7 linked regions of the Homo sapiens genome follow. The protein of the gene in region 2 purifies or fractionates together with the protein of the main gene of each other region. This does not show direct contact. Each region holds a gene or a part of one and is shown on either strand. Other genes may lie near its edges. The genes, in order: PSMB7, PRDX4, RCN2, TLN1, TULP3, UGT2B7 and PPP2R2B.

The links.
Region 1: the proteins of PRDX4 (region 2) and PSMB7 fractionate together in Homo sapiens (co-fractionation; one large-scale study listed by BioGRID). This does not show direct contact.
Region 3: the proteins of PRDX4 (region 2) and RCN2 fractionate together in Homo sapiens (co-fractionation; one large-scale study listed by BioGRID). This does not show direct contact.
Region 4: the proteins of PRDX4 (region 2) and TLN1 fractionate together in Homo sapiens (co-fractionation; one large-scale study listed by BioGRID). This does not show direct contact.
Region 5: the proteins of PRDX4 (region 2) and TULP3 purify together in Homo sapiens (co-immunoprecipitation; one study listed by IntAct). This does not show direct contact.
Region 6: the proteins of PRDX4 (region 2) and UGT2B7 purify together in Homo sapiens (co-immunoprecipitation; one study listed by IntAct). This does not show direct contact.
Region 7: the proteins of PRDX4 (region 2) and PPP2R2B purify together in Homo sapiens (pull-down; one large-scale study listed by IntAct). This does not show direct contact.

The regions. Positions count from the first base shown.
Region 1 is NC_000009.12:124,405,443-124,408,942, forward strand, and holds part of PSMB7 (proteasome subunit beta type-7 precursor), read right to left. Parts: intron 1-3,500. UniProt on the Homo sapiens protein: Component of the 20S core proteasome complex involved in the proteolytic degradation of most intracellular proteins. This complex plays numerous essential roles within the cell by associating with different regulatory particles.
Region 2 is NC_000023.11:23,673,993-23,677,492, reverse strand, and holds part of PRDX4 (peroxiredoxin-4 precursor), read right to left. Parts: intron 2,504-3,500; coding exon 2,387-2,503; intron 1-2,386. UniProt on the Homo sapiens protein: Thiol-specific peroxidase that catalyzes the reduction of hydrogen peroxide and organic hydroperoxides to water and alcohols, respectively.
Region 3 is NC_000015.10:76,951,821-76,954,893, reverse strand, and holds the end of RCN2 (reticulocalbin-2 isoform a precursor), read right to left. Parts: 3' UTR 501-3,073; downstream 1-500.
Region 4 is NC_000009.12:35,722,196-35,725,695, reverse strand, and holds part of TLN1 (talin-1), read left to right. Parts: 5' UTR 1-1; coding exon 2-131; intron 132-374; coding exon 375-472; intron 473-736; coding exon 737-866; intron 867-971; coding exon 972-1,124; intron 1,125-1,361; coding exon 1,362-1,504; intron 1,505-1,616; coding exon 1,617-1,744; intron 1,745-2,774; coding exon 2,775-2,835; intron 2,836-3,472; coding exon 3,473-3,500. UniProt on the Homo sapiens protein: High molecular weight cytoskeletal protein concentrated at regions of cell-matrix and cell-cell contacts. Involved in connections of major cytoskeletal structures to the plasma membrane.
Region 5 is NC_000012.12:2,893,891-2,897,390, reverse strand, and holds part of TULP3 (tubby-related protein 3), read right to left. Parts: intron 1-3,500. UniProt on the Homo sapiens protein: Negative regulator of the Shh signaling transduction pathway: recruited to primary cilia via association with the IFT complex A (IFT-A) and is required for recruitment of G protein-coupled receptor GPR161 to cilia, a promoter of PKA-dependent basal repression machinery in Shh signaling.
Region 6 is NC_000004.12:69,106,474-69,109,973, reverse strand, and holds part of UGT2B7 (UDP-glucuronosyltransferase 2B7 isoform 1 precursor), read right to left. Parts: intron 2,800-3,500; coding exon 2,712-2,799; intron 1,872-2,711; coding exon 1,652-1,871; intron 1-1,651. UniProt on the Homo sapiens protein: UDP-glucuronosyltransferase (UGT) that catalyzes phase II biotransformation reactions in which lipophilic substrates are conjugated with glucuronic acid to increase the metabolite's water solubility, thereby facilitating excretion into either the urine or bile.
Region 7 is NC_000005.10:146,581,758-146,585,257, forward strand, and holds part of PPP2R2B (serine/threonine-protein phosphatase 2A 55 kDa regulatory subunit B beta isoform), read right to left. Parts: 3' UTR 1-3,500. UniProt on the Homo sapiens protein: The B regulatory subunit might modulate substrate selectivity and catalytic activity, and might also direct the localization of the catalytic enzyme to a particular subcellular compartment.

The sequences.
Region 1 (3,500 bases), on a different chromosome or scaffold from region 2:
GAGTATGCATAAGAAAAAAAACATGAGTCCACAAAGCATCACTGTAACTTAGCCAAAAGTTGCATGAGAAGTCAGGTAACAAAAAGTTTTCCTTAAGACTGTTTCATTAAGGGGTTATTGTTTTGATGGGAACAAAAAAGGGAAGGGAACATTAGATGAACATCTACTGTCAGCCAGTATAAACTATAAATTATGTGAGGCACTCCACACACCTGATTTCAGCTCAGCCTCACAGCCCCCATTATTATTATTTTTTTGAGACAGGGTCTCACTCTGTCACCCAGGCTGCAGTACAGTGGTATTATCACGGCTCACTGCAGCCTCAACCTCCCCAGGCTCAAGCAATCCTCCCACCTCAGCCTCCTAAGTAGCTGGGACTACAGGTGTGCACCACCACACCTGGCTAATTTTTGTATTTTTTTTTGGAGAGATGGCGTCTCGCCAAATTGCCCAGGCTGGTCTCAAACTCCTGGACTCAAGCAATCCTCCCACCTTGGCCTCCCAAAGTGCTGGGATTACAGGTGTGAGCCACCACACCCAGCCCACAGTCCCCTTTAAAAGACAACATTATCATTCCCATTTTAGAAAAGAAAAAACCAACCCAGAGACATTAAGAACTTGCCCGGTCTCAGAACCAAATTGGACTGACTCCAAAGATTATCAGCACTTTTCCCATCACACCTCTCTGTGATCAGCACATAAGCTACCTCCACAGTTAACAATGAGGAGGTGCTAAGCTCAGCTGTTCCACTGTTCAAATTATCAACCTGGCCACAAAGGCCAGGCATGGTGGCTCACACCTATAATCCCAGCACTTTAGGAGGCTGAGGTGGGCAAATCACTTGAGTCCAGGAGTTCAAGACCAGCCTGGGCAATATGGCGAGACCCTGTCTACAAAAAATACAAAAAATTAGCAAGGCATGGTGGCATGTACCTGTAGTCCCAGATACTTGGGAGGCTAAGGTGAGAGGATCCCTTGAGCCTGGGAGGCAGAGGTTGCAGTGAGCCATGTACACGCCACTGCACTCCAGCCAGGACAGAGCAAGAGTTGTCTCAAAAAAAAAAAAAAAAAAAAAAAGTATCAACCTCACCACAGCCCAAACAGAAAAATGGCTCATGTCGAAACACCTCTGCCTTTGAATTAACCCATATTATAATTACATATATGAACTCGTATCAAAAAAAAAGTATTTCATCATTCAGGAAAGTGAATATTAAAATAACTCCATGATAGCCTAAGAAACCACTGCTACTACACATAGGATAAACTTACACTTCCTCAGGAACATCACAGGAATATATTTTCCACCCACACCATCTCCACTTAATTGTGCACATATTTGTTCCTTTGGACCCTTTTTTTCCATTTCTATAGATTCCTTTCCCTGTATTTGGTACAGCTTTTTAACATTAGGAGGCCAATGTTACTCCTAACGTGGGAGGCTGAGGCATGAGAATCGCTTGAACCTGGGTGGCCGAGGTTGCACTGAGCCGAGGTCGCATCACTGCACTCCAGCCTGGGCAACAGAGTGACACTTAGTCTCAAAAAATAAAAAATAAAAAAAATCAAAAGAAGAATTAGATCTACATTTGTCAACATAAATTGCTCTCAATTTATCTAGCTGTGCTAGATAAACATGCTGGATTTAAAGTTCTCCACTGTGAGCCTTTAGCTCTTTGGGAAGGAAAACAAAACTGACACATACTGAATTTGCCAAACGATGTAATCATTAAAATACAAATAAATTAACATGAGAACCAAAGTCATAACTTTAGACTGTCTGAGACATGGCCACACATCCAGAAGTGCTCTAAGTAAACAGAACAGTGGTCCAATACTTGCCCTGTTCCTTGATTACCAAATTGTTATTTCATTTGTAAGTAAAAACTTCAAAAACTTCCTAGGAAAAGATTTTAGCAGTAGCCTAAAAAGAGAATAGAGCCCCAGACAAGGGAAGAAACTGGTCCAAGGCCCCACGTGTGAGCTAGCAGCAGGGTCAGACTAGGGCCAAGGGCTCCAGGAAGAGAAGCCACAATCGCCAGTCCCACCACCCCCAACTAGTCCAGTGCCTATTCCACTATGCCAACTGTCTACTGAACAGGGTGTTTAAATAAAGTTAATAATAATCAGCTACTTGCCTTCTAAGCTAAAATATCAACTGTTAGATGCCTTTAAAATAATCAAGATGTTTTGGCAAATTATTGAAGTCATTAAAATTTTAATAATTTATTGATCCACAAATTCTACTACCAGGACTCTATTCTAAGGATATAAACAGACAAATGTACAGAAATGAATGCACAAGGATGTTTACAACAGCATTGTTTATGATGATTAAAAAAGTGGAAACAGCCAGGGAGAAATGGCTAAACTGATCCAACTGTACAACAGAACATCACCCAATCATTAAAAATCATGCTAAGCCGAGTGTGGTGGCTCACACCTGTAATCCCAAAACCTAGGGAGGTCATGGTAGGAGGATTACTTGAGGCCAGGAGTTTGAGACCAGCCTAAGCAACATAGTGAGACATCGTCTACAAAAAGTTTAAAAAAACAAACACAACAAAAAATTAGACAAACATGGTGGCGTGGGCCTTTAGTCCCAGCTACTCAGGAGGCTGAGGCGAGCAGATGACTTGAGCCTAGAATTTTAAGGCTCAAGTCATCCACCATGCACTGCCTTTAAGTGAGCCATGATCATGCCACTGCACTCCAGCCTGGGCAACAGAAAGAGACCCTATCTAAACTAAAATAAAATTTAACAACCATGCTGCATTTTCTCCTGCGCTACTGACGGTAGTACAACGTTTGTCAAGGGAGAGCTTTGACAACATCTTTCAAAATGTTAAATGTGCAAAACTAAATAAATGTGCATTTATTCTAGAATACAGGCTAAGGAATTAAATCACATGAGTACCCAAGGCTTCTATGTTCCAAAGGTTCGTAGAATACCTAATAATACCTTAAATACCTTAAAATGGGCAATATCATTAATGTTTAAAAATTGGTTAAGTTGTAACATAGCCACAAAACGGATACTATGACACCACCAAAAATTATGATAATGATTAATGGTTCTTAAGCTTTTATGGGTCAGAGAGCCCTCTTAAAAATTGATTAAAATTGTGGAAATTTTCCCCCATAAGAGTACACACAAACATTTTTTCTGATTTCAGGAGAGTTACAAGTATTCAGAACTTCTCTATGGGCTCAAGAGAAAAACTCATCTACTGACAGGAACAATATTTGTAACATACCATTATGTAAACAAGGGAAATTACAAAACAACACATACAAGGATATATATCTAGAACAAAAGGTATGAAAAAACAGATCTTCAAAAATTTACAGTGTATGTGTCTAAGTGGCAGAACATCAGGTGGCATTTACTTCCTTCTATCCAGGTTTCTAGTGTCTACGTTTTTTACAATTATATTATTTTTATAATTTTAAAAAGTTATTTTCATTTTGAAATGCCCTAGTATAGAACCCATTCAAG
Region 2 (3,500 bases):
AGGATTTTTTCCGATTTTGGTATATCTGCATACTTACTGGTTGAACATCCCTAATCTGAACTCTGAAATGCTTCACTAAGCATTTCCTTTGAGCATCATGTCAGCACTCAAATTTTGAATTTTGGAACACTGTGGATTTCAGGTTAGGGACGCTCAATCTGTATTCTGTAACTTGAAACCAGGAGACATGGGCTGATGCTCTAACAGGAGGGTACTGACACAGCAGATAGAAAACAAAACGACATTGCTCTAGATATCTGGAGCCCCAGTTCTGACACCCAAGTAGAAATTTCTGGTTGATGTGAACCCTATCAGGCTGAGAATGTATCCCCAAATTTCCTTGGGAAAGCAATCCCAAATTATTTGGGATGCCATAACTTTTTCCTTAGTGGATATGCATTTTAATCCTCGGAAGATTTATAATTACTACAGAAGTGATGAAGCACAGCCCGGGCAACATGGCAAGACTCCATCTCTACAAAAATAAAAATTAAAATAGGTATGGTGGTGCAAGCTTGCAGTCCCAACTATTTGGGGAGGTAGAAGGATTGTTGGAGCCCAGGAGTTCAAGGCTGCAGGGAGCTATGATTGATTGTGCCACTGCACTCCAGCCTGGGCAACATAGTAAGACCCTGTCTTTCTTTTTTTAAAGGAAATGATGAAGCAAATTAAGCCTATATTTTAATTTTTTTTTTTTTTTTGAGACAGGATCTCACTCTATTGCCCAGGCTGAAGTGCAGTGGTATGATCTTGGCTCACTACAGCCTCGACCACCTAGGCTCAGGTCATCCTTCCATCTCAGGCTCCCGAGTAGCTGGGACCACAGGCATGCACCACCAGACCTGGCTAATTTTTTTTATTTTTTGTATAGATGGGGTCTCACTATGTTGCCCAGGCTGGTCTTGAACTCCTGGGTTGAAATGATTCTCCTGCTTTGACCTCCCAAAGTGCTGGGATTATAGGCGTGAGCCACCATGCCAGGCTATTTTAATATTTTTACATTAAGAAATAATCAGTACATATTTATATGTTAAGTTATTTATAATGTTTAAGAGAATTTGGCATATTAGAACTACTTAAGTATTTGGGAAGGTTTGTCTGAAAATTGAGATACTTAAGGAATTCAAATATATTAAATATATAACTGCATTTAAAAATACTTATGGGAATTAATTTCTTAGGGAAATGTAATTAATTAAATTGTAGCTCACCAAGCAATGAAAATTTGTTATACACACACAGATTATAAATGAGAAAAGCTTGTGTTTCAAATTTGTAACTTTAATAAATTGAATATTATGTTTTAAAACCAATAGTTCTGAATCTTTTTTTTTTTTTTTTTTTTTTTTTTTTTTTGAGATGGAGTTTCACTCTCATTGCCCAGTTGCCCAGGCTGGAGTGCAATGGCGTGACCTCGGCTCACTGCAACCTCCACCTCCTGGGTTCAAGTGATTCTCCTGCCTCAGCCTCCTGAGTTGCTGGGATTACAGGCACCTGCTACCACGCCTGGCTAATTTTGTATTTTTAGTAGAGACGGGGTTTCTCCATGTTGGTCAGGCTGGTCTCGAACTCCCGACCTCAGGTGATCTGCCTGCCTCGGCCTCCCAAAGTGCTGGGATTAGAGGCATGAGCCACTGTGCCCAGCCCAATTCTGAATGGTCTTTATTGTGCACAAAGTTTTCTGCACAAGACTGTGGACACTATAAAAACTCATATTAACATGTAAATTTCCAATTTTGAGACATGTTGCCCAACTGCTCTCCAGAAATGCTAAACAGCTGTGTGTGAGTGCCGTTTCTTCAATTTTTGTCCACAGTGGATACATTTTTTCAATCTTTTAAATCTTGGCCAACCAGACAGGGAAAATTGGCATCTCGTCATTTTAATTTGCAATTCTTTATAACGAATTTAGGTAAAACATCTTTTTATGATTAATGAATTTTTAAACATTTTTTAAAATTCATTTTTAAAAAGTATTGTTTCTTCAAAATTGTAAAAGCTGAGTTTGACTATATAACTGTGTAACAGAGAAATGGCATATTTTAAAGATTTTTTTCCTCCAGATTATGGTAACCCAATTTATCATAAGCATATAATTCAGTGGTTTTCGCTATAGAAATCACATCTATTGCATTTAACTTTTCCCCTTATTTTGAAATGTCCTATAAAATCCTTAAGCATTTTTATTATAGCAGCTGATTATATTACTCTTCTCTCTTTTTTTAACCTGGAAAATGTGTAGTTACATGTATTACTCTTAGATAAAGCTATTCCTGAATTGTCTGATAAATGACTATATTCTTATATCATATCAAGAGTTATCTGTCCATGCTTTAAGAGTAAATCCATTCTTTTTTTTCTACGAATATAAGTGTAAGATACTGACCAGGCCAAATGGGTAAACTGTGAATCAACAGAGCATGCTACCACTTCAGTATTTATAGATCTGAATTCTTCAAGTCTGTCGCCAAAAGCGATAATTTCAGTTGGACACACAAATGTGCTGAAAGGTAAAAAAAAAAAAATATTCAGTATTCTCCAAATAAGCATATACCTAAACTTTCAAATGACAATTTTTACAAATACCTTTAATAATAAAAATGCACATTAAGAACAATTTTATATTTGAACCTTTTCAAAATGGAGTAGTCTAAAAGACTGTCATTTAATCAAATATTTAAGACAGAAACATATTACAGAGTTCCCAACTACATCTCAATAAACTTTCTTATTACAACTTAATAGATCAGTAGTCAACCAATGTTCCCTTCTCCCTTATAGCAATAGCCACCCCTCATTTTATTACTTTTATTTAATAATACCTTTTATTTATATAGTATTTTATAGCTTTCAAAGGATCTATACAAATTTTATGTCATTTCACTATTTTTTTTTTAATATTCCTATACCAACCCTATGAATTAGATGCATCTATGTGTATTTTGGAGAGGAGGCAATGTTTTCCAGTACCCCCACCCCTCCTTTCTTGATAAGGTCCTCTTCCACCTTGTCTACCAGTCCTGTGCAGCCAGGGATTTTATACCTTAATACCCTCATGTTGTCAGGCCATGTTTACAGAATATTACTAGGGTGGCATTTTTTCAAACCGTGGTAGGGACTCCTTAAATTAACTGAGTTCTAAAAAATATTTTTAAAAAGTGAAATCGAATAGAAAACAGGAGACTCTATCATACATACTAAGGGTAAATTATGAAACACATATTTATATATACAAATATATATGTTTGTCTTCAACAGTGATGATATTCAAAATATTTAACAATCTTAACTCAAAGCTGGCTTTAGTTCTGGAGGTTTCTGAAAGGGATCAGGCAGGAGGACTAACTAGTTGGTGAGGAAAGGGAAGTGGCTATTTACCACATGATATGAGGGTTTTTCAGTATTTTAAGGAGCATGGCTGTGCTGGTGCATCCAGATGGAATGTTACCGTATATATATGTGCCTGTGTACTGGCTGACAACGAAAAATGTATTTCCTAC
Region 3 (3,073 bases), on a different chromosome or scaffold from region 2:
GACAGGCCAGCAGCTGGCACAAAAAGACCTTAGTTTATGCTTTTAGTGTGTCATTGTAATGGAACAGTCTCTCTACTTAGGTTACCAATCACTGCTAATGGTACAATAACTGAGCAAAATGTTGATGCCCTCTGTTCATTGGAACCTGGTCTCAGAAGAAAAATATCTCTGTGGAACAGAAAGCAAAAGTAGGGTTTTTTTCTTTAAGGTATGAAAAATCATGATTAAAAGCTATGAGATTTTTAAAAATCCCCATAATCACTTTAAAATAGTTTTATAAGCTCAAATGGTTTCCTTTCTACAGCTCAGGAACTAACTGGTTAATTTGAGATAAAGATAGGGCAAACTGTAGGTATTCAGCAGTACTTGTTTTTTTTGTGCTTGGATTGAGGTGTTTCCCCCCCCCCCCGCCAAATAAAATAGAGACGTTTTAGTAGCTGCACTGGAGGCCCTTAGGTAATTGGTTACTAGTTATAAAAAATTTTATAGCAGGCAGGAAATCTGGCCAAATATTTATTCGACAGAACTCAAATGTTGCAATGAAGCAAATTAGTTTTTACAGTTGTTTAAAAACTTTTACTCTAAGTGGCTTTCCTAAATCATCTTCCTAAGTGAAAAAGTGTAAGTTTGAGTTGACATTTCTCACTCAAAAGGAGGTATTGTAACACAAAAACGTTTGAGAAACAATAGCATACATTTATCCTCACATTTAAATTGCAAAGGAATGATATTCTGGAACAGGCAAAACTGTAGAGACAGACCATTAGGGAAATGCAAATCAAAGCCACAACGAGATACCACGTCTCACCCAACAGGATGGCTACTATTAAAAAAAAAAAAGAAAAAAAAAAAAACAGAAAATAGCAAGTGTTGGTAAGGATGTAAAGAAACTGGAACTCTTGTGCACTATTGGTGGAAATGCAAAATGGCACAGCTGCTGTGGGAAACACTATGGCAGTTCCTCAAAATATTAAAAATAGAATTACTAGTCGGGCGCGGTGGCTCACGCCTGTAATCCCAGCACTTTGGGAGGCCAAGGCGGGCGGATCACGAGGTCAGCAGATCAAGACCATCCTGGCTAACACGGTGAAACCCCGTCTCTACTAAAAATACAAAAAATTAGCCGGGTGCGGTGGCAGGCGCCTATAGTCCCAGCTACTCGGGAGGCTGAGGCAGGAGAATGGTGTGAACCCGGGAGGCGGAGCCTGCAGTGAGCCGAGATCGCGCCACTGCACTCCAGCCTGGGCGACAGAGCGAGACTCCGTCTCAAAAAAAAAAAAAAAAAAAAAAAAAAAAAAAATATATATATATATATATATATATATATATATATATATAGAATTACTATATGATCCAGCAATCCCACTTCTATGTATAATATATATCCAAAAGAACTAAAAGCAGGATCTCAAAGAAATATTTGTACACCCATATTCATGGCAGCATTATTCACAATAAAAGGTGGAAGCAACCTGTGTCCATCAAAGGGTGAATGGATAAGCAAAATGTGGTATATGCAAACAATAAAGTATTGTTCAGCCTGACGAAAGAAATTCTGGTAACAATATGGGTGAACTTTGGGGACGTTATGCTAAGTGAAGCCACTCACAAAAAGACAAATACTATATGAGTCTATTTTAATAGACACAAACTAGAATGGGGCTGGGCGCGGTGGCTCATGCCCGTAATCTCAGCACTTTGGGAGGCCGAGGCAGGTGGATCACCTGAGGTCAAGAGTTCGAGACCAGCCATGCCAACATGGCGAAACCCCGTCTCTACTAAAAGTACAAAAATTAGCCGGGCGTGGTAGCGGGCATCTATAATCCCAGCTACTTGGGAGGCTGAGGCAGGAGAATCGCTTGAACCTGGGAGGTGGAGGTTGCAGTGAGCCGAGATCGCACCACTGCACTCCAGCCTGGATGACAAGAGTGAGACTCCGTCTCAAAAAAGAAAGAAAAAGAAAACTAGAATGGGAGGCTGGGCACGGTGGCTCACGCCTGTAATTCCAGCACTTTGGGAGGCTGAGGCAGGTGGATCACCTGAGATCAGGAGTTCGAGACCAGCTTGACCAACATGGTGAAACCCCATTTCTACTAAATACAAAAAATTAGGGGGCATGGTGGTGCCCGCCTGTAATCCCACCTAGTCGGGAGGCTGAGGCAGGAGAATCGCTTGACCCCAAGAGACAGAGGTTGCAGTGAGCCGAAATCATGCCATTGCACTCCAGCCTGGGCAACAAGAGCAAGACTCCATCTCAAACAAAAAAACTAGAATGGTGTTTGCCAGGTGCTGAAGGGAAGGGGAAAGGGGGCTTTATTGTTTAATGGGTATAAATTTCCGTTTTACAAATGAAGTTCATGGAGATGGAAGGTGGTAATAGTTTCACATTTTGACTGTATTTAATACCATACCACCGAACTGTACAATTAAAAACTGTTAAGATGAATTTTGTTATGTGTATTTTACTACAATCTAAAAAATTATGAACAGTAAAAAGATCAGTATTGCTTGGGGTTACAGGGAAGGGAGGGATGAATAGGTGGAGCAGAAAGACTTTAGGGCAAGGGAAATATTCTACCACACTACAATGGTGGGAATATGTAATTATACATTTGTCCAAACCCAGAGCATGTGCAGCACCAAGAGTGAACCCTAATGTAAACTATGCACTTTGGGTGACAATGATATGTTAACAGTTTCATCGATTTTAACAAATGTACCACTCTGGTAGGTACTATCTCATGACATATAGGATAGGATAGTGGGGGAGGCTGTACGTATGTGGGGCAGGGGACATATTGAAACTCTCTATACTACTTTTTGCTCAATTTTGCTGTGAACATAAAACTACACTAAAAAAAAAAAAAGCCTATTTTTAAAACTGCAAAGGAAAGAACTAAGTAAGGCAAACATGATATGCTAGCTTTTCCTCTGAACGTCCTGGCTTCCTTTAAATTTATATCATAATCTAGACATCATTTTCTGTCCTGCAAATTGGCCCAATCAGAACTACATATGAGCCAACATGTGCACATCCCATTCAATTTTCCCCTTTGAAGTTGTACCTGAACTC
Region 4 (3,500 bases), on a different chromosome or scaffold from region 2:
CATGGTTGCACTTTCACTGAAGATCAGCATTGGGAATGTGGTGAAGACGATGCAGTTTGAGCCGTCTACCATGGTGTACGACGCCTGCCGCATCATTCGTGAGCGGATCCCAGAGGCCCCAGCTGGTCCTCGTGAGTCTGACTCCCCCGGTGGCTGGAGTGGGAGTCTTCAGTCCCTTCTTGTTCCCAGGCTCTCGGCCTTGAGAGTTGACCCCTTTGTCCCCTAAGACTACTCACCCCTCAGGTCTGTGTTCCATGGTTCCCTCGTTCTTTAGGCCCAAGGTCATGGGAGAAATAGTCAGGGGCAACATGGTACAAGCTGTTCAGCCACATTGGGGTCTTCATAAGCCTAAAGTGATCCATCCTCTCTTTTAGCCAGCGACTTTGGGCTCTTTCTGTCAGATGATGACCCCAAAAAGGGTATATGGCTGGAGGCTGGGAAAGCTTTGGACTACTACATGCTCCGAAATGGGGTAAGTATCCTTTCATCAAGGACCACCACATCCCCTTCCATCAGCTTCTCCCTGTTCCACCTCCTGTTTTCAGCACCCACATCTGTTGTCTCTTAGCCCTCCCCATGCTTTCTTCCTATTAACAGACAGTCATAATTCCCTGCTTTTGAACGAACCACCATAGTCTTCCTTTCAGTGCTCCACTCTCTCCCCTCGGGCTGTGTAAAGAGGAAATAATACCCCTAGCTCAGAGTAGGCCCCTGTCTCTTCTTCCTGCCCTAACAGGACACTATGGAGTACAGGAAGAAACAGAGACCCCTGAAGATCCGTATGCTGGATGGAACTGTGAAGACGATCATGGTGGATGACTCTAAGACTGTCACTGACATGCTCATGACCATCTGTGCCCGCATTGGTAAGGGGCCCTAGTACAGTTGAAAGCCTGGGCCAGAAAGCCTCAACTCTCTCAAAAGGCATGGATGCAGTACCTGGGAAGCTAACAAGCCATCTCCTTCCTCAGGCATCACCAATCATGATGAATATTCATTGGTTCGAGAGCTGATGGAAGAGAAAAAGGAGGAAATAACAGGGACCTTAAGAAAGGACAAGACATTGCTGCGAGATGAAAAGAAGATGGAGAAACTAAAGCAGAAATTGCACACAGATGATGAGTGTAAGCAGAACTAGAAAAAAGAGGGCTTTTGAAATGGGAAGGGTGGGAAGGGGCTTCAGCATCTGCTTCTGCCAGGCACTGTTTTACACCCTGGGGATACATCAGTGAGAAAACAAAGTCCTACACTCATGGGACTTACATTTAAGTGAGGGGAGGTAGGAAATGCAGAAATAAACAGAGACCAGACAGCACAGGGGCCATGGGGGTTTGGCACTGAGGGGACTGTCTGTATCCCAGTGAACTGGCTGGACCATGGTCGGACACTGAGGGAGCAGGGTGTAGAGGAGCACGAGACGCTGCTGCTGCGGAGGAAGTTCTTTTACTCAGACCAGAATGTGGATTCCCGGGACCCTGTACAGCTGAACCTCCTGTATGTGCAGGTATGCAGAGGACTTGGCTGGGGTGGGGCAGGAATAGGGAGGGCTCGGAAGCACAGTGTGCGTGTCCTTGCACCCACACACAACATTCGCCTCCTTGCCCTGTGCTCTCCAGGCACGAGATGACATCCTGAATGGCTCCCACCCTGTCTCCTTTGACAAGGCCTGTGAGTTTGCTGGCTTCCAATGCCAGATCCAGTTTGGGCCCCACAATGAGCAGAAGCACAAGGCTGGCTTCCTTGAGTGAGTGACCCACATCCTATACCCTGTCAGGGCCCAGGACTCCCTGCCATTGTGACCCCAGTGGGCCTGTCTCCATTCCAAGCCTGCCCCCCACTATTTCTTCTTCCGAGGTACCAGGGTTTGACCAACATAGCTACCCTTTTAGTTGCCATCATCCATTGTCTCTTCTCTGCCTCTGGAATATGAATGTAGTTCAGTATCTCTGCCCCTACCCCCATCTCTGAAGCAAGCATGTCACTCTTTTTTGAGATTATCTGAAGAATTTTGCTGCAGTAGCCAGAGGGAAACCGGGTAAAATTTTCCCTATAGGGAACATGGGTTAAAAGTCTCACAAGCCTCATCTGCTGGTGTTTCTTGGAATGCAGAGTTTGGCGTGGCTTTCTCAGCTTCCTAAGTGCATGTTCATCCTTCTAGAAAGCTCTTTCTCCTCTTGGTTCCCTGAAATGGTGCTCTAGACCCACTTTCCCTCAGGGACTGAGCCTCTAACTTAATTTTCCTCAGTCCCTTTCCCTACAGGGAGAGACACAGGTCACATTAAGAATTCATACTGGCCAGGCTCGGTGGCTCACACCTGTAATCCCAGCACTTTGGGAGGCCAGGGCGGGCAGATCACCTGAGGTCGGGAGTTCGAGACCAGCCTGACCAACGTGGAGAAACCATGTATCTCTACTAAAAATACAAAATTAGCCAGGCGTGGTGGCACATGCCTGTAATCCCAGCTACTCGGGAGGCTGAGGCAGGAGAATCACTTGAACCTGGGAGGTGGAGGTTTTGGTGAGCTGAGATCGTGCCATTGCACTCCAGCCTGGGCAACAAGAGTGAAACTCCATCTCAAAAAAAAAAAAGAAGAGTTTACACGAAGTCACCTCTATTTCAGAAGATAATCTAGACTCTATTCCCTCAGAGTCTTTTTTCTCCCCAAAGATAACACTGTCCTAGGTATTTCCTCATACCCCCAGGCCCACAGTTCATGGCCCACATGTCCCCTGATGCTGTCTACCACATGCTGACCCTCCCTTTTCTGGTGTAGCCTGAAGGACTTCCTGCCCAAGGAGTATGTGAAGCAGAAGGGAGAGCGTAAGATCTTCCAGGTGAATGTGGGTAGGGGAAAGTATTTGGGATGACCGCGGAGCTTTGCTGCTTAATCTTACTGACTAAATGGCCCCCTGCCTCCTCCCCGTCTCCCCTAACTTGGCTTTCACCCACCGGGCTGTTATCCCACCTCACCTCTGCCAAGAAAGCAGACAGCTTGGGCTTTTAGTCTCAGCTCCATCCCTGCTTTTGCTGTGCAATTCAGTTCAATATTCTTGTAATCTTTTATTTACCTCTGATTTGGGATAACAGTACTTGCCCCGTGTAGGACTGATAGGATCAAATGAGGTAGCATAATCTGAAATTACTGTGAAAGAGTATAGTCTTTGTCCACTATAAGGTGTTACCCCCACTCTGAATACTCAGCCCAGAAGGCCTTCTCTTTGCCCTTCTACTTCCAAACTCTCTGTTCATATCTCCAGAATGTCTGCAAGTTCCTTGACTGTATCCCTTGACTCATCGCTTCTGCATAGCCCTTATCAGCCTCCATCCCGTTACCCTCTCGTTCTCATATCTTGTACTCCTCAACCTTTCCAGTGTCCCCATAATTCTCTCTCGTTAGAGTTAGCATCCAACCTTAATTCCTTAGCTGTGATATGAAACTCTTTGCTAAATTCTTCCCCATTTTATGCACAGGCACACAAGAATTGTGGGCAGATGAGTG
Region 5 (3,500 bases), on a different chromosome or scaffold from region 2:
ACTTTATCACCTTTCAAAAGCTTTCGAATGTTGGAAACCCAGAAATTTCTAATAATTTCCCCTGTATTAAAAAAATCTTTAGGCTGGGCGTAGTGGCTCATGCCTGTAATCCCAGTACTTTAGGAGGCCGAGGCAGGTGCATCACCTGAGGTAAGGGGTTCGAGACCAGCCTGGCCAACATGGTGAAATCCTGTCCCTACTAAAAATACAAAAATTAGCCAGGGGTGGTGGCAGGCACCTGTAATCCTACCTACTCAGGAGGCTGAGGCAGGGAGAACTGCTTGAACCCAGGAGGTGGAGGTTGCCATGAGCCGAGATCCTGCCACTGCACTCCAGCCTAGGCGACAGAGCGAGACTCCAAAAAAAAAATTTAAAAGTCCAAAATTGTATTGTTATTGAAACATTGTTAAAATGTGTTGTCACTCTGCTAGTTGCACTTAAGTACAGTTCTACTTAGTGAATATTTAATACTGCCTGCCAGGAATTATATTAAATATATATTATTTTTCACATATGATGTGTGATAATTTTCACGATAACCTTGACAAAGTAGGCACTATAATCTCATTTTACAGACAGATATGAAACTCATAGATGCTCTAAATGAATTTCGGGAGAAAGGAGGTGAACTCCTTTCATATGAGTTTCATATCTCTCTGTAAAATGAGATTATAGCACCTACCTTGTAGATTTATTGAAGTTTCTTCCTGCAAAGCTAAATAGCAATAATTTTATTTTTCCAGGAGCATATTTGAAAAATATTTCTTGCTTTGTTACAGCCTTATTTTCTACACATCACAGGAAAGCAATTTTAAACTTACAACTATAGTTCATATTCTAAAGGTCAAACAGCTGATCAGCGAAAGAGCCCAAATTCAATCACAAGTCTCACTCCCAATCTACCTGAATGTGTTAAACCACACGACTGAACACGTGTATTAAAATGGTCAGCAGAGACAGGAATTTCATTCTCTGGTATTTCAATATGTTCATTAAAAATGCCAGCTGACTTGCTATTTTTAGGTAGAACTTCCAAGCCAGTGAATGGATTTTTAAGCAGCCCTGGGGAGGAGTGCCCTGAATAACGACATTTAGGTCAACCATACTGCATATACAACAGGGGTCCCCTAAGATGATAACACCACATTGTCAGCCAGGCACAGTGGCTCACGCCTGTAATCCCAGCACTTTGGGAGGCAGAGGCGGGTGGATCACTTGAGGTCAGGAGTTCAAGACCAGTTTGACCAACATGGTAAAACCCCGTTTCTACTAAAAATACAAAATTAGCTGGGCATGGTGGTGCACGCCTGTAATCCCAACTACTTGGGAGGCTGAGGCAGGAGAATCACTTGAACCTGGGAGGCAGAGATTGCAGTGAGCCGAGATCATGCCATTGCACTCCAGCCTGAGTAACAAAGATGCGACTCCGTCTCAAAAAAAAAAAAAAGTATTCTCACTGTACCTTTGCTATGTTTAGATATGCTAATACTTACCAGTGTGTTCCAATTGCCTACAATATTCAGTACAGTAACAGGCTGTATAGCTTTGTAGCCTAGGAGCAACAGACTGTACCACAGGGCCTAGGTAGGTAGTAGGATATCCCATCAAGGTTTGTGTACACTATGACGTTCACACAACAAAATCCACTAATGACACATTTCTCAGAATGCATCCCCATCATTAAGTGGCAAATAACTGTATAGAGTGAAAGAGGCATCAGATTTCATCATGTTCAAACTGATAACAATTTCAGATAATTGTGGAAAGAGCTATTAACAAAGTATGTTTCCTAACTCAATTGACAAATAGGTTCACCTTGTCCAAATCCTAAATGTCAATATTCGAAGGCCATGTTTTTACACATACTGACACACCAAGAACACATCTGGCTTGAACAAAATATTGCTTCTGAGAAAAGACACATAAAGGTCATATGAGAAGTGTCAGAAAAGAATTCCTTTGACATCTATCCTTCCTCATCTAGGGAGAAATGTTAGTATTCTAAGCTCAGCTGTCCTCTACTTGAAAGACGGCCACAATCTGGAGCTAACTTAATTGAAGCCAGGGAATGAACATCCATTTCCTAGGAGGCCCATTTAGTAGAGACACAATCAGAGCAGGGAGAACTGCCTGGGGAGAGGGAGGCAATGAGAAGCAAAGGCTGGCCGCTGATTTGAGCATTCCCATAGCCCCAAAGAATGCTGCAGGGAAAACTATTTTAGAGTAAACCCCTCCTGATTTTGCAAGTACCACACAGCAAAAGCAAAAAGCATTCTTTTGAGTGAACTAAACAAAAAGGCTATTTAAGATGTATGATTTAATCCAGAAGTTAAAAGAATGCATTTATTACTTGTAGATTCAAACAGACATTACTCAGAACTTAAGTTCGTTTTAACTTTTGCCCAATTCTCCCTTCTCAGGGGTTATATTTTCTCTCTTCGGGAATGTTATTTATTTTCACTATTTCTTATTTTTATTTCATTTTATTTTATTTTTCAAATGGAGTTTTGCTCTTGTCGCCCAGGCTGGAGTGCAGTGGTGTGATCTCGGCTCACCGCAACCTCCGCCTCCCAGGTTCAAACAATTCTTCTGCCTCAGTTCCCGGAGTAGCTGGGACTATACGCACACACCACCATAACTGGCTAATTTTTGTATTTTTAGTAGAGACAGGGTTTCGCCATGTTGGTTGGGCTGGTCTTGAACTCCTGACCTCGTGATCTGCCCACCTCCGCCTCCCAAAGTGCTGGGATTACAGGCATGAGCCACTGCACCTAGCCTATTATTGAGCTTTTTATCTTGACAGATCTCTTTTTTGTGTGCGTGCGTGTGTGTGTGTGTGTGTGTGTGTGTGTTTTTGAGACGGAGTCTTGCTCTGTCACCCAGGCTAGAGTGCAGTGGCACAGTCTTGGCTCACTGCAACCTCCACCTCCCTGGTTCAAGCGATTCTCCTGCCTCAGCTCCTGAGTAGCTAAGATTATAGGCACCTGCCACCATGCCTGGCTAAGTTTTGCATTTTTAGTAGAGATAGGGTTTCTCCATGTTGGTCAGGCTGGTCTTGAACTCGTGACCTCAGGTGATTTCCCCCCCCCCGCCCCGCCCCCCCGCCATCTCGGCCTCCCATGGTGCTGGGATTACAAGTGTGAGCCACCATGCCCAGCCTACTGTTTATATTTCTAAAGAGAAATCATGGTATATGGACAAACCACCGACTGGGATTTCTTAGATGACTCCAGCTCACAAGGTCACACCACAGTGGGAAGCACGCCTTCAATTCTCAATTCTCTATCACTTACAAAAGGCCAGATAGGGCTCAAGTTCCAGCACCAGCCAACCCCCGTCATCTCCAGGGAATCTATATTATAAAATGCCTAGCCTCAACAAAGGTCCTGAGTGTTGTTTCAAATTTCACCTCCAATTTTCACTAAACATTTCTGATATAAGAAAATAGGCCAAGCCTGGTCGCTCACACCTGTAATCCCAGCACTTTGGGAGGCTGAGGC
Region 6 (3,500 bases), on a different chromosome or scaffold from region 2:
TGTCCAAGCTGGTTTGTGTTCTTTTTCAATTATTTCCTATCTTCTTTAAAGGTATTTTTATCATTCATTATCCTTCTTTTTTTGTGATAAAGTATTTTTCAAGTATTCCTTTAGATGATACCCTGCTTATATAAAAAAACATTATTGATAGTAGCTATAAATGCTGAATTGATGGTAGCTGGACTCCACAAGGAATTTTGCACATTGATATCTTTGGGTTTGAAAAAATCAATTATTAAAAATTTAACTTAAAATTATATTTTTTGTGCTTCAAAGACCAACATCAAAAAGTAAAATTTAGTGCACCCAGAGTGGGACAAAATATTTACAAGTTATATATCTGACATGACCCATAATATATAAATAGTTCTTAAACTTAATAATAAGACAAATAGCAAAGTTTAAAAATGTTCCAAGGATTGGATAGACTGTTTTCAAAGAAGATATATGAATGATCAGTAGGCACGTATGAAGATTCTCAACACCTTTAGCCGTAATGAAAATGCAATCCAAGACCAGGATGAGAGATCATTTTACACCCACTAAGAAGGCTGTAACAAAAAGTCAGGGAATAACAGGTTTGGCAAAAGTATGGAGGAATTGGAACCATGTTGTACTGCTGGTGGTAGTCATGAATGAAACAAGTACTTTGGAAGACAGTTTAGCAGTTCTTCATAAACATACAGTTCCCACATGAAGCAGCAATTCCACTTATAGTATCAACCCTAAAGAAAGGAAAACATGTTTATGCAAAAACATGTGTAGCAATCTTCCTAATAGCCACAATTGAAAACAATCAAAAGGCCAATGAACTGATAAGTGAACAACTAAAATATGACATATCTTTACTAAAAAATATTAAACTGCTATAAAAAGAAATGAAGTATTAAAACACACAACAACATGAATGAAACTAAAACCAGAAAAAAAAAACAACAAAAAATTAGCCTAGGTGAAATGTCATTTCACAACACCCTAAACTGTATGATTCCATTCATATGAAATATCTAAAGAGAATAATCTATAGAGAAAGGAAACAAATTAGTTAGACCAGGGCTAAGCGGTCATAGGAAGTGACTTCTGTGTCATTGCAGTTTCTTTTGTGTTGATAAAAATGTTCTAAAATTATGTAATAGTGATGGCTTCATGGCTCTGTAAACATACTAAATATATTTGGATTTTATAACATAAACAGGGGGGTTTTATGCTATCAAAATTAAATCTCATTTTCAAGTCTGTTACAATAATGATAATAATAAAAGTTAATTTTTCAGCAAGAAAATGGTTATACTCTGAGGTGTTTTAGATATCTAATTAAAATATTTTATTATATTATTTCAGGTTTATTCTTCCTTTCTTCTATGGATTAATTATGTCAAATTTTTAAGAAATGTATTTTTTGTATTATCTATATCCTTTTAAAATTATTTTTGTGTAGAAAATTGTTTCACTAACTGGCTATTCTTTAGATGTATGTGTTTCAAATTCAATTTTTAAATAACTTATAAAAATAAAAGCAGATTTCAGATTGGTTAAATCATTTAAATTCTTTCAAAATTAGTCTCTTATAAAAAGGATGAAACTCACACTCACTATTGACAAGAGAAGCTATCTGTAAATACCACCTAGTGAAAAATATTGTTCTACTCACGAAGGATCATTAATTACTCTCTTCAATGCATTCAGCAAGTCTGTACTCGACATTGTGTTGAAGTCCACTCTAACAGCTGCTCCCCTGGCCTTCATGTGAGCAATGTTATCAGGTTGATCGGCAAACAATGGAATCCCCACCATAGGGATCCCATGGTAGATTGCCTCGTAGATGCCATTGGCTCCACCATGAGTTATAAAAGCTCTGGTCTTTGGATGACCTAGGATTGGATGAATTTTAGCAAAATTACTCATAGGAATAAAATGAGATGCACAATGAAAGGCTCTGAAAGTGACAGTGTTTTCCAGCTAAAACACTGAACTAAATTAAAATTGTGTTTCAGACTTCGGAGGAAAAAACACGTACTTGTACTGGGTATGTAACTGAAGGCTATACGGTGTGTGTGACTTCAGACTGCAAAACAATACAAGATTTCCAGTTGGGCTAATGAAAAATTGCATTCTAGATTTCAAAAATGTGCAAAAAAGAAGACAGCAAAGAGATAGGCATGAAGTGAACTCTTATTTTAAGTGCAGTCACAGAGTGTGATATATGGGGTGGGCAAGGCAGCAGGCAGTGGTTTGGTGGTGGTGCTAGGATTGAGGAAGGACAGGTCACACTTCATCGTGAAATGTATCATCACTGTATGATTAAGATTAGCAGTTTAATTCTTCAGAAAATACAGAGTCACTGGTGATAGAAGAGCTATTATTTTTAGTGGCATTTCAAATAACCCTGCGGGAGAGGAAAAAAACAGGTGTAAAGTTGTAGAAATAGGAGACAGAGAGACAGCCCAGGAAGTTATTGAAAAATTTTGTGAGATATAATAACACCTGAAATAAAGATTCCCCCGATTCAGACTATAAAGAATGTGGGTGTATATCATAAAATGCCAAAAATTATAATGTATTCTTTCTCCCTTAAGACTGGAAAATCAATATAAAGAAGTTACATTTTGTTTTTCCTTAACAAATATTCAATAAGCTTGTTTCATGATGAACTATTAACACTCTAATGTGCTGTTACTAATATATTCAGTATTTGTTCACCAGAGTCTTACCTAGAAGGTCATTCTGGGGTATCCACTTGTAGAGCCGAGTATTGAGACCTAAGGTATCTGGTTTATTCCCATCAAATCTCCACAGAACCTGTTACAATAAAGAAAATATTTTATTCCATGAGTGGAATTCAAAAGTTATAGAATGTGAGAACTGTATAAAGAGTAGGAATGAGATCAAGGGATGTTAGTAAATAAGAACTACTCAAAGACTAATGTAAATAGAATACTCACATTAATTTTCTCAACTTTTATAATTAGTTAGGTATATAAGGAAATCATGATTTTCCAAAATAGTACCTTAGAAAAAATCAGATTATCAATGAAAATTTCAAGCATTTAAAAAATTGTTACACCTTTTAAAAGAAAACCTACGTGTGGCCAACCATCATATGAAAAAAAAAAAGAAAAAAGCTTAACATCATTAGAGAAATGCAAATCAAAACCATAATGAGATAGCATCTCACACCAGTCAGAATGGCTATTATTAAAAACTCAAAAAATATCATGATACTGGTGAGGTAGTATAGAAAAGGCTTGCTTATAATCTGTTGGTGGGAATGTAAGTTTGTTCAACCATTGTGGAAGACTGGCGATTCCTCAAAAACCTAGAGGTAAAAATACCATGAAACCCAGCAATCCCATTACTGGGTATATAACCAACGGACTATAAATGGTTCTTTTATAAAGACCCATGCACAGGTGTATTAATTGCAGTACTTTTCACAATAGCAACGACATGGAATCAACCTAAATGCCCATTGATTATGGGCTGAATAGAGAAAATATGGT
Region 7 (3,500 bases), on a different chromosome or scaffold from region 2:
GATTGTCTTTAATATGCAACTATGATTGTTTGCTGTTCTCTTTATATATTCAGGCTGAGTCTTCATAAGCCACCTGCATTTGGAGTTGAAAACCAATGGTCTAGATGAAATATGACTTTCAATTATGCCACAGTCAGAGAAGCTGAAATAAGAAAGCCACACTGGAGGAAGTCAAGTTTATCTTATTGGAGTGAATTGGGCATGTAGAATAAAATCCAGCATTCACTCAGCACACAGCCCCACTGACCCTATTGTTCATCCCCCTCCAATTTATTGTTGTATTTCCCAGCTGCCCACAGAGCTTCCCCTGCAATATTGTGGACACCCAGGCAAATGAAAATGCCAATCTTCTCCCATCCCTGTCTTGCTGTATTAGGCATGTGCTCAGCTCTGAAAGATTTCTTTGGGGGTCTTGCCTTTCCCTAAGAACATCTAGGGGAAGGTTTGTCTCACCTCTTGTTTCCAAGTGGGAGGGTTGAGAATAATAGCTCTTGTCACTTCCCTTTGCCTTGTTATGGGGAATATTTAGTGCTGCAGCCTGGGTGTGGGGGCAATATCTTGGATGTGATAATGTTGCTTCCTGCATCAGTGAACATGGTATTGATTGTAAGCTGTCAACCTTTCTGCATGCTTTTCAGGGTCCCAGAAGGCTAACTACTGCAGGGAAGGTAATGCATCAGGCAGGGACACATATGCTCTATTAACTAACACTGCAATCTAAGCTTGATCACTTGCTTTTAACACATCTTGGCTCACTGGCTCCCAATTTTTTCTTAATTCCCTGACTCCTCTGAGCAGTCCTCTGATGCCCTGTTTGGATCTCCATATATCATTCAAACTCCCAATGGCATGCCGCTCATCTTATAAGCTTCCTGTGGGCAAGTGCTGTGCCTGACTTCCTTACACGTTTATTTGTTCATTCATTCAACAAAACTTTTGAGCACCTACTATGAGCCAGACAATGTTCTGTGCTCTGGGGATACAGGAGTGGCCTAAACAATGATGCAGTCCTCATGGAACTAAGGGTGGTTGAGAAAGCATCTCTGAGGAGGTGACATTTGAGCTGAGTTTATCAGTATATCCCCTGTGGCTGGACTATAAGTATTTGCGAAGTTTGGAAACCATATTTCCTCATTTTAGTGCCTCATAGCCTGGCTATTGGAGAAGCTCCTGATATGTGAACCACACTAAGTCCATGCATTATTATTTTTCAGATCATGCATTATTGCCCACTCACCTTACCATGTCTCCTTATTTCTCTTGGTCTGCCTTCCTACTTTTTACTAATCAGTCATACCAGAGTGTTGTGAATTCCATATATATATAGCATATGCTGTTTTGCCTCCACTGTCCTATCCTGATGTCTGGAATATGCTTTTCCTTTCTCTTCTCCTGGATAACTCACTCCCTTTATCTTTCGGATTTCACCTTGGGAATCACCTCCTCTGGGAAGCTTCTGGTCTGGATGAGTTAGTGCTCCTTTGTGTCCTCCTGGCACCCAGACACATCCATCATAGTGCATATGTTTTATAGGATTAGCAGAACTGTAGCAAGAAATGTGCACTGAATGCATATTTGTGGGCCAGGCATCCTTCTAAGAGCTTTGTGCATATTAAATCATGCAATCTTCACAGCAATTTTATGAGATAGATGTCGTTTTTATCCTTATCTCATAATGAGAAAATCGAGGCACAGAGAGGTTGTCATTTTTCTAGGTTGCTCAGCTTTTACATGGTGGAGCTCAGATTTTAACCCAGGCAGGCAGGCTGGCAGGCTCGGTATCCTGGGCTCTTGACATTCCACTGCCACCATTGCCTGTGAGTTTGTCTGCACCTCCCGCTATCTGTGAGCTGTGTGAAGATGGAGCTGTCACTGCTGCTTCCACAGACCACCCTGGCATGGGCTTGGCAGGCAGTACATGAACAATCATTAACCATTTAGTAAATGAATGAATGAATGCATGAAATTCGCCCAACTGAGCAACTGTTTAGAGTTCCAAAATGTTGCTTTTCCTTTTACCACTGAGGAAAGCCCCTGTTCCCTTCTACTCCAGCTTCCTCAGTCTTCCATGACTCCCACAAGTATGTATTACTCTGGCTGGAAGGGAGGGCATCCCTAGCCAACCAGAGCAAGAATCACAGCAATCATGGCTTGTTCCTACAATTTCTGGGTTTCTGTCAAATATGAGTTATGAAGAAGTGTCCTCTCCACTCTTTCTCAAACCAAATACAGCAGCCAAAATGATTGGAGTGGCAACTGAGAGGGCTTGAGATGGGCAAGCAGGAGCTGTTCAGTGGGCACTGTTCACCCAGGAAAACCCAGGTTGACTTTTTGGGGAATGAGCAGCAGGGGCGGGAAGGCTGGGAGTGGACTGGGATCTGTCTTGGCAGTGGCTAAGCCCCTTCTTCTGGCCTGACAGTGATCATTGCTTTGATTGCAGCTGAGGCAGGGATCAGCGGAGATGGCAGATCATGATGGTTCTGCCACCAGCAGTTTAACCAATGGGGCATGGAATATCTAAATTGGGGGACAGTTAATCAGTCATAATAAGGTCAAAGTCAGAAGTTGGAGACCTGTGAGCCACTTGACTTCACTCTCTGCTTTGATGACAGACCAAATTTGTATTCTTGGTCAGCTGTCAGGCAATATTTAGTCACAGAGAAATGGCGTGTTTGTGAGTATCCACGCTAGGGAAAATAATCAAGCCAAGGTAACTCTGCATTACCAATAACTGTGATGGAAGAAGTATAGGATCTGGAACAGGATAGATCTAGATAAAACTTCCTGCTACGTCATCTAACCCTTTTGAGTCTGTTTCTCGCTATAAAAATGGAATAATACATCTACCTATCAGGTGATTAACAATGATTTAAAACAGTGCCTCTCCCAATGCCTGTCATTGCAATAACTACTCAGGAAATATTGGTTTCCTTTTATTCTTTCCGTCTACTTTACACTTAAATACAGTGCTTAAAATAAGGTTTAATAAATATTTGTTATTGGATGAACAAAAGGAAAAAGGGGTAGGCTAGTTCTAGTATGTCGAAAATGTGTTTCTAATGGAAGGAGAGAAACATTGGCTTTCTGTTTCCATGCCATATGGATTTTGCTTCATATTCTGGTATATGTTGGTCTACCTATTGGAAACGCTGTATCATGCTTTGTTGAGCAAATTTAGTTAAAATTCTGCTTAGATGACACATTCTGAGAACCTTTTCTTATCACTCATTGATTAACTATTTCTTCCTCTGTATGACTTCTGCCCTTCATAGATATCTCATTGTAAAAATGTTTACAGTATGCAAATATGCACTTTCTCCTATGTGAGTGTCATCTCTTGGAGGGCAGGGGCCAGTGGTTTAAATATCTTAGTAACTCCAGCCCCTTGTCTAGAACCTGGCTGCCTGACACATCCCAGGCAACCAATGAATCTTTAATTCATTGAGCTTATGGGTCATTACTGGGGCTTGTTTTCTGATCAGTAACTTCCATCTACATGC